Linked DNA regions of Homo sapiens: regions 2 and 3 are each linked to region 1. The links come from fine-mapping of genetic effects on gene expression. A gene starts in region 1. Each other region holds a variant in brackets. All regions are shown on one strand. Distances are from middle to middle.

Region 1 (4,242 bases):
AGGAATATTGGTCAGGTATTTTGTAGGATGTTCCACTACTGGAATTTGTTTGATATTTTTCTCATTATGAGACTGAGGTTATGGTTTTCCAGGAGGGAGACCACACATGTAATATGCCACATTCATCACATCATATTGACTACATGCCATCAATGAGTCACGATTGTTGACGTTGGCTTAGAACATCTGGCTGGGGTAGTGTCTGTCGGCTTTCTCCATTGTAAACCTACTGTTTTTCCCTTTCCACATTGTACTATTTTGGAGGAAGTCACTGTGCACAGCCTAGGGTACATGATCTACATAAATTATTTGGAATTATTCTGTATAGGAGATTTGTCTCCTCTCCGCCTTTTATTTATTTATTCAATTATTTATTTATATCAGTGTAGACTCATGGATTTTTTTACTTTGGCTTGTAATCCAATACTACCTTGTTTAGTTTACTTCGTTGCTCAAATGGTTCCATCTTTGGCAACTGGGAGCTTTCAGGTGGTTCCTGTGTCTAAACATTCTGCCATCAAGGCAGGATTCGTTCTTTAGTTTTATTTTTTTTCTTCTCATTCAATTGAGACAGCGTCTCATTCTGTCGCCCAGGCTGGAGTACAGTGGCGCGATCTCGGCTCACTGCATCCTTGACCTCTCAGCCTCAAGTGATCCTCCCACCTTAGCCTCCCGAGCAGCTGGGATCACAGCGTGCGCCACCACGCCCAGTTAATTTTTTTATTTTTTGTAGAGATAGGCTTTCACCACATCGCTCAGGCTGGTCTCAAACTCCTGGGCTCAAGAGATCCTCCCCCTTCGGCCTCCCAAAGTGTTAGGAATACGCGCGTGAGCCACCGCGCCCGGCCCGATTTTTCCTTTTTTGAGTATCACTTCCTTACTTTTCAGCCTCAGCCTTGTTTTTCAAGGTGCTTTACCACCACCTGGCACAATCCACACTTTCTATTTATCCCTCCCCGTTAAAGTGCCGGGACCTGGAGGGTGGGTCTTGGCAGTATTTTTGAGCGCGGTGGGCACACAAGGGGACGCTCAGTTGATATCCAGAGAATGATGAGCCCGGCGGGTGTTGAGGCCGACTGGAGAGAGGTTGGTCGGCAGGGTTCTGGGAAGGCGGTGCTCGGCCTCCGTGTGACCGCAGGCTCCTCGCCCGCGTCCTCGAGGGTCCCAGGGATGCAGGACCTGCCGCAGCTTCCGCAGCCACACCCACGCTCAGAGACGGCTTCCAGCGTCCTCGCCGCGGCAACGCACCGGACTGCAAATGTCACCAGCGCAGCGGGGATTCCCGGGGGAAGTCCAGCGCGCTCCCTGCCCTGGGGACCAGAGGACGAGCGGAGGAAGTGTCTTGGGCGGCAAACATCCCACTCCCCGCGCCGGTCCGCGCAGCCCGCGGGAACGCCCCTGGGCTTGCGGGAGGGGCTGGAGCGCGTCCCCGGCTCCGGGCGGTCCCGAGCGCATGGACTCTGGGTGGGGCGGGAACCCGCGCTCTGTGAGCCGGCTGCCGCCGCGCCCCAGCGCTGTCATCCCGGGGCGGGGCCTGGTCCCCAGCTGTGGTCGCTTCCTAAGCGGCGGGGGCTGAGCCGGCGGCGCCCAGATGCGGCCGCGGCGGCGCGGAGCTCGGGCGGCCGTGGAGGAACTCAGCCTCGGCCGCAGGAGGCGCCGGGAGCGGAGCCGCCGGGAGTCGCGCAACAGGTTTCCTTCTCCATCGCTGCGCCCACAGGGGACGCGCGCCCTGCCGGGAGAGGGGCTTCTCGGTTCGCACTCTCGCTCCCAGTCCAGGTTTGTTTTTCTCTTCCTGAGCCCCCATTTCTCTTCCTGACTATTTTCCCCGTGCGCGGAGAGATCGGGGAGGGCGGGTCGGGGCGGGGGCACTGTCTAGGCTCGGGACCCGCGGCTGTGCCTTAGGTGGGATTTTGGATCTGGCGCAGGTCCTCACGCCGCCTCTGGGCACCTTCGGAAACACAGCATTGGGTTTCTCATATAAAGCAGAATGATTTTTTAAAATTACTTTTAATTTCAGAGGCTGAGGGACTTAGGATTTAGTGCTTCGTAAGAATTATTTTAGGGATACCTGTTGGTAGGCTGCCTTTATAAAGTGTCCACCCAAGACTACTTTTATTTTAAATCGAAAGGCTGGAGTGTTTTTTTATTATCACCTCTTCACTTCCTAGTAGGGTGACTGTGTCAAAAACACCAGAATGGGTACTTCTTGACTTGAACTTGGCGGTGTCACTCAGTAGCCAGGAAAGACGGAGAAATTGATAGAGCCTTCGAGGAGTCCCTTCGAAGCCCACGTAAGACTTTGTTTTAGAAACATGGAGAGAAGTAGTGGCAATGCCTGCGAGAGCCACGCCGTCCTGAGAGGGAATTCTGCCTTTTTCTAGACTCCGCTGACACCAGCTGAGATCTGTATTACTTCCTGTGGTTCTCACGCACTTGTTTCAGCCGTTTCTCAGCAGAGGGAGGAGCTGTTATTTACAGGTATCCAAAAATGAGTCACAGGGCTGCTCTCTTAATTGTGAGACTTTGTTAATGAACTTTTGAAAAGCGAGGCTTGCTTTAAAATGAGACTCTAGATGTGAAATGCCTGCCCTGCCAACCTGGGGCAGTGGTATGGGAAGTGACGATTGAGTTTTCAGTTTCCTAAGGCGCCTGATGTTACAACATGCCAGTAAAGGTCACTGGGCTGATCTAAGATAACCATTGAAATCATGTGCTTTGCCACAGATGCCCAAGAGAAAATTAATTTCATTATTCAATGACCATTTTGCTGTCATTTTCACTGCATGGGAGAAAGGTATCATTTAATGTGGTGATTGTAAGTAACTCTCTAAAATCAAAATATTTCAGACAGTTTGTGTTTACTAAATTGGTGCTAAAACCACATGATGATTTTTGAAGCGGGTGGGTCCCAGCGGGAGCAGAGAAATTTAAAAGTTGAAGCTGACAAGTCCTATTGCGGTGGGTAACAGCCCTTAGGAAGGGACTGCACACTATCTCAACACGGTAGAGAAGGGGACACCATCTCTACTGGAGCTGAGTTGAGCTGAATTCAGCCTCAAACAACAGTTACCAGGTACCTTCTCTGTGCCAGCCTCTTCCCTGAACCTTGCTTGTACAACCATGAATAATAGGATCCTGCCGGCAAGGTACTAGGGTAAATCTATACCCAGAGTGAAGTTTCTGTGCCAATATAACTCAATATGCTGGGTCCCAGTGTATTTAAAGAGTAGACTCAGCAGATTATCACCCCTAGATAATTGCGGTCACGATTAGTTGATAGTGTGACTTTTAAGAAATAGTGTGACTAATTAATAGTTTATTTAAATATGCTGGAAAATTCAATATAATGAGATAGGTGCTAGGGTAAATCTATACCCAGAGAAAAGTTTCTGTCCCAATATGACTGATGTTTCTGAAGATCTGGGATTTGGAATGGACTGGGTCATGGCTGGAAGAGCAAGGAAACTTTTGAGTTTAGTCATTTACTTGTCTTTGTAGGCAGCCTATTCTTCATTTGATACATGATTTAAAAATGTATGAATTTGAAAGGTATGGTTTTTAAAGTGCTTGAATGAACCATGTTTCATGTTATTTAATAACCATGTAAAACGAAATTCAGCTGATTATCACCCCTGGACAATTGCAGTCACCTTTAGTTAACAGCATGACTTTTAGGAAATGGTGTGACTAATTAATAGGTTGTTTTGTTTTGTTTTGTTTTTTGAGACAGAGTCTCACTCTGTTGCCCCAGGCTGGAGTGTGGTGGTGCAATCTTGGCTCACTGCAACCTCCACCTCCTGCGTTTAAGCAATTCTTGTGCTTCAGCGTCCCAAGTAGCTGGGACTACAGACACCCACCACAACACCCGGCTAATTTTTGTATTTTTAGTAGGGACAAGGTTCGGCCCTGTTGGCCAGGCTGGTCTCGAACTGCTGACCTCAGGTGATCTGCTTGCCTTGGCCTCCCAAAGTGCTGGGATTGCAGATGTGAGCCACCATGCCCTGCCTAATAGTTTATACATTGGTAACACTATATTGAAGCGAGTTTATGATCATTGTTTTTGTAGTTCAAATCAATGTTTTTTATCACATTATAGCCGTGTGAGCCAAAATGAATAAATCTACCGTATCACAGTTTACTGTTGCAATTGAAATCTGCTGAGATGCTTTTGAACTGGATGCCCAAGTATCAAGGTTTCCAAGTTTCCCCAGTTTGCTAAGATATCCAACTGGTAAAGGCAAC
Region 2 (4,242 bases), 37 kb after region 1:
GCTACTAGGCCACGTATGATTGGAATTTTCCACATAAAAGCATTTTAAAAAGCAGTGTTATTTACGATGCTTATCATTAGGGAATGATATTGAGAAGAGGAGTAAGGAAACCTCAACTTCTAAATTTTACACTTAGATTTCTGTATTTTGTTGTCATTTTACTTCAAGCATGTTTTACTTTTACAACATCTTCAAGAGAAAAAAATTTAAATCATGATTTGCATGGTAACTGTTTTAAGAGTTGTTAGTGTGTACAGGAGGGGATGCTTCCCAGTGCCGAAATAGACACAAAATAGGCAACATTTAGATGTTGGCCCCAAAGCCTTGTAGATTATCCTCAATTAAAAATACTTAAGTTTGCAAGTCTTTCTTCTTCTTTTTTCTTTTTTTTTTTTTCTGTGTCTGTTTTAATTTGCAATGATTGGAAAACATAAAGCAATGAAAAGAGATGGTTTCCCAATGCAATCTAAAATTTTCACACACCAGGGCCTGTTGTGGGGTGGGGGGAGGGGGGAGGGATAGCATTAGGAGATATACCTAATGTAAATGATGAGTTAATGGGTGCAGCACACCAACATGGCACAGGTATACATATGTAACAAACCTGCACGTTGTGCACATGTACCCTAGAACTTAAAGTATAATAAAATATATATAAATAAATAAATAAATAAATAAAATTTTAAATTGCTCATTGAGTTCTGCGCGGCTATGATATTGAACTGCAGGTGCCTATAGGCCTTAAAACACAACTGTTTCATGTTGTTCAGTCATCTTATTTCTTTCCTTGTAAGCAAAATGTCAGAACATTTAGCTCCTTTAGTGCACTTATTGCCCACACCGAGGAATACAAAATTGGGACTGCTGAGTAAAATGTTTAAGTTTCAATCCCTTGAAGGCAAATATTTGACTCTCAATAGAGAAATTTAACTTCATTATCTCTACTTGCAGGCAAAATGAAAGACCGGCTAGCAGAACTTCTGGACTTGTCCAAGCAATATGACCAGCAGTTCCCAGACGGGGACGATGAGTTTGACTCGCCCCACGAGGACATCGTGTTCGAGACGGACCACATCCTGGAGTCCCTGTACCGAGACATCCGGGACATTCAGGATGAAAACCAGCTGCTGGTGGCCGACGTGAAGCGGCTGGGAAAGCAGAACGCCCGCTTCCTCACGTCCATGCGGCGCCTCAGCAGCATCAAGCGCGACACCAACTCCATCGCCAAGGCCATCAAGGCCCGGGGCGAGGTCATCCACTGCAAGCTGCGCGCCATGAAGGAGCTGAGCGAGGCGGCTGAGGCCCAGCACGGCCCGCACTCGGCAGTGGCGCGCATTTCGCGGGCGCAGTACAACGCGCTCACCCTCACCTTCCAGCGCGCCATGCACGACTACAACCAGGCCGAGATGAAGCAGCGCGACAACTGCAAGATCCGCATCCAGCGCCAGCTGGAGATCATGGGCAAGGAAGTCTCGGGCGACCAGATCGAGGACATGTTCGAGCAGGGTAAGTGGGACGTGTTTTCCGAGAACTTGCTGGCCGACGTGAAGGGCGCGCGGGCCGCCCTCAACGAGATCGAGAGCCGCCACCGCGAACTGCTGCGCCTGGAGAGCCGCATCCGCGACGTACACGAGCTCTTCTTGCAGATGGCGGTGCTGGTGGAGAAGCAGGCCGACACCCTGAACGTCATCGAGCTCAACGTACAAAAGACGGTCGACTACACCGGCCAGGCCAAGGCGCAGGTGCGGAAGGCCGTGCAGTACGAGGAGAAGAACCCCTGCCGGACCCTCTGCTGCTTCTGCTGTCCCTGCCTCAAGTAGCAGGCCGGCCCGGGCCGCCACCGCCCATCCCAGACCATGGAGCGCGCTGGGAAGGACGCACCAAAGCCG[G/A]GAGCTCTGCCCTGCAGGGAGTTGCCCCAACCCTTTCCGGAACTCAGTCTTTAGAAAAGAAACGCCAGGTTCAAGAATTGCAAACCAGCCTGTGCTTGGAAAGATGGTTAGTTGATACCGTCCGATGATTCTTCAGTAAAGATAGATTCCCACAAAGTTGTGCAATGTCATTATATGACACCTTGCACTCTTACCGTCTTGACAGAAGCCAAGTAAGGAACTGAAGTTGTATCTGACTGTAGGGTGAATGTCTGAGGCCTGCCTCCTAATAAAGACTCAAGGAGGAAGTCAATTGGGCATCTGCTAATAGAATGAACTCATGATGGAAACTTCAGTTCATTTACTTTGTCCTGAAAATTCCCTGGTTCTGTTCCATTTTGAGCGAAATTGGCCTTGGGAAAAACCACGTTCTTCCTTTCCGATTCTTCATCCGGTCTACGCTATGCAATTCCTCCCCAAATATAGATCTTATTTCTGCTCATTTCCCCTACTTATTAAAATCACACCAAACACTTACTATTTTCTTATCTCTTTCACTTTTTAAATATCTTTCACCAGGTTATATTTTGGTATTATTTTTCCAAACATTTTTAAGCACTGAATATCGAACAAGCACTCAAATTGAAGTATCAGTCATGTTTTGTGTATTTTTCGCTGATAAAAATTATTTAACATTTATATTTTTACTTGATTACATATGCACATGTATGTAAATGTAAAATACTAATATTCACTAATATATGTACATAATGATCAATTGGTTTAACTTCTTTTATGTAAGTATGGTATATAAATTTCAAGACGAACACTTTTCTGGCTCTTGGTATTGGTTTGCTTGTTTTGAGTTTGTTTCACTCCAGTTTGCCCCTTCCTAGTCCAGTTTGGGTCAAACTTCATGTTAAACAACTCTGCATTGGTTATGGCGGTAGACATATGGCGGTAGAAAATGTATACGGAGCTAGAGACAACTAACATTCTTGGAAATACTGCTTTTGTTTTACTGTGGACCATTCCTTCCATGCATTGAAATGGAGAAATTCAAAGTAAAAGAATTCTGTTTTTCAAGCAAGCTTAATAAACATTACATTATACACATATTTTTATACATTTCTGGCTTGACCATTTAGTTTACTTTCTCAATTATTGTTAAAATTTTTCTTTTTCCTTTTTTTTTTTTTTTTTTTGAGATGGAGTCTCACTGTGTTGCCCAGGCTGGAGTGCAGTGGCAGGATCTTGGCTCATTGCAACCTCTGTCTCCCAGGTTCGAGCGATTCTCCTGACTCAGCCTCCTGAGAAGTTGGGACTCTGGGCGCGTGCCACAATGTCTGGCTAATTTTTTATGTTTTTAGTAAAGACGGTGTTTCACCGTGTTAGCCAGGATGGTCTTGATCTCCTGACCTCGTGATCCGCCCGCCTCAGCCTCCCATAGTGCTGGGATTACAGGTGTGAGCCACCATGCCTGGCCTTTTTTCCCCCCTTTTGAGACAGGGTCTCCCTTTGTCACCCAGGCTGAAGTGCAGTGGCATAATCATGGCTTACTGCAGCCTTAAACTCCCAGGCTCAAGTGATCCTCCCACCTCAGCCTACAAATAGCTGAGACTACAGATATGTGCCACCATGCCCGGCTAATTTTTGTATTTTCTGTAGAGACAGGGTTTGCCATGTGGCCCAGGCTGGTCTCAAACTTGTGAGCTTGAGCAATCCGCCCACCTTGGCCTCCCAAAGTGCTGAGATTACAGGCCTGAGCCACTGACCCTGGCCAAATTTTTTTTCTACTAGCTACTGAGGCTGCCACATCTGGATGGAACTGAGTGGAGGGGGAAAAGAATGAAAAACTCAAAAGAATTCCCATGAGGGTGTCTTGCTTTCTCTCCTGAGTTACAATACTTTAGCAAAATCATGAGGCTTTAGAGATATGGTGTAGTCTGCAAACTTCTTAATGCCCTTACCCACATTTACCATGTTTCCTGGCCTTCCTCTGTGTCAACTCTTAGCTCTTCCTAATCATTATTTAATACATGAGTGAGTTTAGTAGTGATCATATTTCTCAGGTCCTTTAGAAGCTGGAATTTTAAAAGAATTAGAAGGAGGAGTATGTGAATTCTTTGGAGCTCACTGCCTGACTTGCTTATGACCAGGAAAATCTATCCCCTGTATCTAATTTTAATTTCATGGTTAAATTTGAGAATTGTGGAAACCAAGTTCCACAAGGCTATTCTCATATTTCTCCCAATTTCTTTTTCAGCCAACTCCAAGGATATGTATCACCTTTGACTTAATTTGCTTTCTCTAAGGGAAAGGGGAAAAAATGTTCACATAGCTCCACTGCAATGTTTTTTATAATAGAGGAGAG
Region 3 (4,242 bases), 26 kb after region 1:
TCCTCCCGAGTAGCTGGGACTACAGGTATATGCCACCACGCCCAGCTGATTTTTGTATTTTCAGTAGAGATGGGGTTTCACCATGTTGACCAGGCTGGTCTTGAACTCCTGAACTTAGGTGATCCACACACTTCGGCCTCTCAAAGTGCTGGGATTACAGGCATGAGCCACCGCGCCCAGCCTTAATAACACTCTTTTAATCATTATTTGTATGTGAATACAATGAGCCTCTCTTTCCTCATCTTTACAGTGAAGGCACTGTGCAAGCTAGTCATTACAGGCTTTTTCTGCTCTCACCTTCTTTGATTTTACTTAACATGGTGGTTGGGTTGATTAAGGAAGGAACACAGTAAGTAGCTGCTCCTTACCCACCTGACTTCCACACCCGTGGAGAAATAAGAAAGGAAAAGCAGTCAGAGGCCAAAGGGTCTCGTTAGTGACCGATAAAGACAAGGTTGGAAGATGTGGCTTACATCTGTGGGACTGTGCATTCTGATCTTGAAGCCAGCATTAGCTGGATTTACCCTCCCTGGCCACAGCTGATTTCACCCACCCCACCCAGGGGTAGTGCAGAGACAACACAGGTTCTCTGCTAAACCCACTTTTAGGAAAAAGAAAGAAGTGGCTGGGCTACTGCAGACAGGTTCTTCTTTTAGATTCACTAATTAGATAAGCAACTCCATGCCCCTTTGCAGGAGGAGGTGGAGAGGGATGCCAGAGAAGGGAAGAAACAGAGCAGAGAATATTGCTCCTTAACAACACTAGCGCCTCCCGACCTAGTACCTCCCCACACTAGCGCCTCCCACCCTAACTCCCCCAACAGCTTCAGTGCATGATTAAGTGGAAAGGGCATGAACTCAGGACCTGGACAGATGTGAGTTTAAATCCCAGACTTCTCTCTTACTCACTGGGTGAACTTAACTTCTCCGAGACCCAGTTATTAGTAAATCGAAAATGATGTTACCCTCCTCCCAAGGTTATTGTGAGGATTGTGGTGGATTTTATATCAGTTCTCAAGCACAATGACTGGTTTGGGGTGCACACAGTCTGTCACTGAGATTCGTTTTTCCTTCCTTGCTTTACGGAGTGGGCTTGATTCTAGAGGGCTGCAGACACACGCAGAAAGTTACTATTATAGAATGTTTGCTTCTCGAATGTCTTTGCTTGCCACAGTCTCTAAAGGGAGTGAGAAGACTGTCAGTGGTGAGTGGAGATAACTGAGGAAGGGTTTGCTATTTTAACTCCCAGGAAAGAGAAACATTTTAAATCAAATCAAGCTGATCTTTGAACACATGGTTGAAAGATGTTAATAATGGCCATTTGAGTCATCAATAAATTGTGTCTAATGCCCTGTTTTTTAAAAAGCAAGGAAGTGTGTCCAGGCATTTTAGAAGAGGATTTCCAACAAAGATAAGTAGATGCCTTTGACATTTGAAGGGAGAAACTTCAGTTACTGTAAAGGTTACTTACATGGAAAACCCTCATGCATTGATGATGTTGGATAACTCAGATATTTCCGTACCTTGTGTAAAAGATATCAGCCATATATAAGAATATTTTTTCTGGGAGAATTTAACAGGAGTAACCAGGCAATGAGACTAGAATAAGTGGCCCAAAGGACACTGTTTACAAGAAAGAGGAACAGATAAAGGAATGTAAAAATTCTTAACTGGTGTTACGAGTTGGAAAAGAAAAGGTCATTGATGATTCTGGAAACTCCATGGATTTCTCCCTTTCAAAGATACTTCATGGAATAGTTACAAAATATAAAGGAATTACTTAAAGGCATATATGTTTTCCAACTGGACTCAAAATCTATTCCCCATCATTTTTTAAACATAGATCTTTGCTGTATTTTCCAGGCAAAGTTTTGCTTCACATTCTAGGGCCAAAGGGAAATCAGATGTAAGAGTTACAACAACTGTTTTAGTTTGTAAATACTAATAGAGATACAAGTGGAAAAATTTGCACAGATGACTTGAGCCTTGAGGCCTTGACCCTTGAGTGCTCCTGTCTTTACTTTCTCCCTTAGCTCATCTACTGGCTGGGAGCGGTGGCTCACGCCTGTAATCCCAGCACTTTGGGAGGCTGAGGCAGGCGGATCACAAGGTCAGGAGTTTGAGACCAACCTGGCCAATATAGTGAAACCCCATCTCTACTAAAAACACACAAAAAATTAGCCGGGTGTGGTGGTGCACACCTGTAATCCCAGCTACTCAGGAGGCTGAGGCAGGAGAATTGCTTGAACCCGGGAGGCAAAGGTTGCGGTGAGCCAAGATTGCACCACTGCACTCCAGCCTGGGTGACAGAGGGAGACTCCGTCTCAAAAAAAAGAAGAAAGAAAGCTCATCTACTGTCCTTTCCTGCTGTGGCTTCTATGCACCTGACTGTAAAATTTACATCTCCAAGTGTCTGTATTCTGTTATTTCAGAGAGTTAATAATTTTATGGATTTTTTTTAAAGTTGTGGTGACTTACTCCCTGTTTTTAGGACTGTAACAACTGAAGTGTTGCAATGTTGGGGAAACTCTGATATGAAGAAATTTGTGTGGGAAAGAAAGTAGTGATTCTAATGGTGACAGT[A/G]TTTCCATGTGTTAATCCAGTTCTAAGAATTAGATGCTAATAATTGTTCCTAATAGAAAAGCTCAATTAGGGAATACGTTTCCTATTAGACTAACGATTTTAAAAGAAGCCTTCTTGTGGGGAGTTTAGGAAAAAGAAGCTAGTGTAGCTTTGTGGATTACGGATGGATTCTCAAGTAGTCACACTTTTGGGATTTATATCTCAACTCCATAACTGTATGACTTTAGGCAAACTGCTTAAACTCATTAGGCCTCAAACCTGTAGACTGGGGATGATGATAATACCTCATAAGGAATAAATGGGTTAATACCTGCCCATTGCTGAGTACCGCATTTGGCATTTTACAAATGCTTAATAAATGTTCACTGTAGAGCAGAATGTATGAAACCTACACAGGAGTAGCTGCTTTGATTTCCCGTGCATTTCTACAGAAAGCATCTGAAAGCATATTGCTAAAAGTGAAATCCCAGCTACCCACTGGCTGTTTATCAACTGTGCATATCAAACTGCCTTTTTCTCTTCACACACTGGCAGAAAATTCTGATTGAGGAAACTGAAAAGCGAATTATGTCAGAGGGCATCAAATGAGTAAAGTGATTGAAAAGTAGAGGCTGTCTCCTCCAGCAGTGGTTTGAATAACTCCTACCTGCTTTCTGCTTTAGAGCAAAGAGAAAACAAGAGACATTTAAAAATTATTTCTTCTAGCCTCAGACTTTTATCGTTATAAACCATTTCAATTAATACTCTTCAGCCTTTCAAATTTTGCTTTGAATGAGCCCTAAGACAATATTAAATGCGTTCTTGCCCAATGCACTTTAAGATACGATACAAGCTTTTTTTTTTTTAAATTAACTTCGGAGCAGCAAGAAAATTAGAGCTATTCATTAGGAACTTTTTAGTTTTAACCTGTAATGTTTTGATGTTCAAAGAATAGTGTTTCCCTCTGTATTAGTCTGTTTTCATGCTGCTGATAAAGACATATCTGAGACTGGGCAATTTACAAAAGAAAGAGGTTTAATGGACTTACAGTTCCACGTGGCTGGGGAGAACTTACAATCATGGTGAGGCAATGGTGAGGCATGGTGAATGCAAGGAGGGGCAAGTCACATCTTATGTGGATGGTGGCAGACAAAAAGAGAATGAAGAGGATGCAAAAGCAGAAACCTCTAATAAAACCATCAGATCTCATGACACTTATTCACTACCACCAGAACAGCATGGGGGAAACCGCCCCCATGATTCAGTTATCTCCCACCGGATCCCTCGCACAACGTGTGGGAATTATGGGAGTACCATTCAAGATGAGATTTGGGTGGGGACATAGAGCCAAACCATATCACCCTCTTAGATGTGTCATTTTAAAAATCAAGAAACAGAACACTGGTTTTACTCAGTTGAGTGAAATTATTGTTTATGAACCTGTTGGGGAAAGTCCATTTGTTGTTCTTTAAGGGCTGTGTTACTATGGGGTATGCTAGAAAGGAACTGCTAAATTACAGTGACACTCTACCTGTGGAATTTCTAGGTGCCTCTGGTAGCGGGGATGTGTGGGCAGGAGGGACTGGATGAGGTGGTTGAGAAAGGGGTACACAGGGTGACCCCATGGGGCTGTGCAGGTTGTGATCTCACCACAGATGAGAGAGACTGGCAATCCAACCAT

The links. PIP is the estimated chance that this variant, and not a neighbour inherited with it, causes the effect.
Region 2: its variant is fine-mapped to the expression of STX11 in whole blood (TOPMed, PIP 0.99).
Region 3: its variant is fine-mapped to the expression of STX11 in testis (GTEx, PIP 0.92).

Annotation. Positions count from the first base shown.
Region 1 is chr6:144,148,928-144,153,169 of GRCh38, forward strand. STX11 (syntaxin 11) reads left to right here and starts at 1,590. Exons shown (of 2, transcript NM_003764.4): 1 at 1,590-1,776. RefSeq lists a silencer at 1,277-1,716.
Region 2 is chr6:144,185,672-144,189,913 of GRCh38, forward strand. It overlaps STX11 (syntaxin 11), which reads left to right. Exons shown (of 2, transcript NM_003764.4): 2 at 952-4,242. The coding sequence starts at 957. The coding sequence ends at 1,820. Among named protein-coding and RNA genes, the nearest start is that of TRL-TAA1-1, 29 kb to the right of the region's middle. RefSeq lists an enhancer at 802-1,302. The variant G/A (reference allele first, on the strand shown) is at 1,890.
Region 3 is chr6:144,175,425-144,179,666 of GRCh38, forward strand. All of the region lies in intron 1 of STX11 (syntaxin 11), which reads left to right. Among named protein-coding and RNA genes, the nearest start is that of STX11, 27 kb to the left of the region's middle. The variant A/G (reference allele first, on the strand shown) is at 2,583.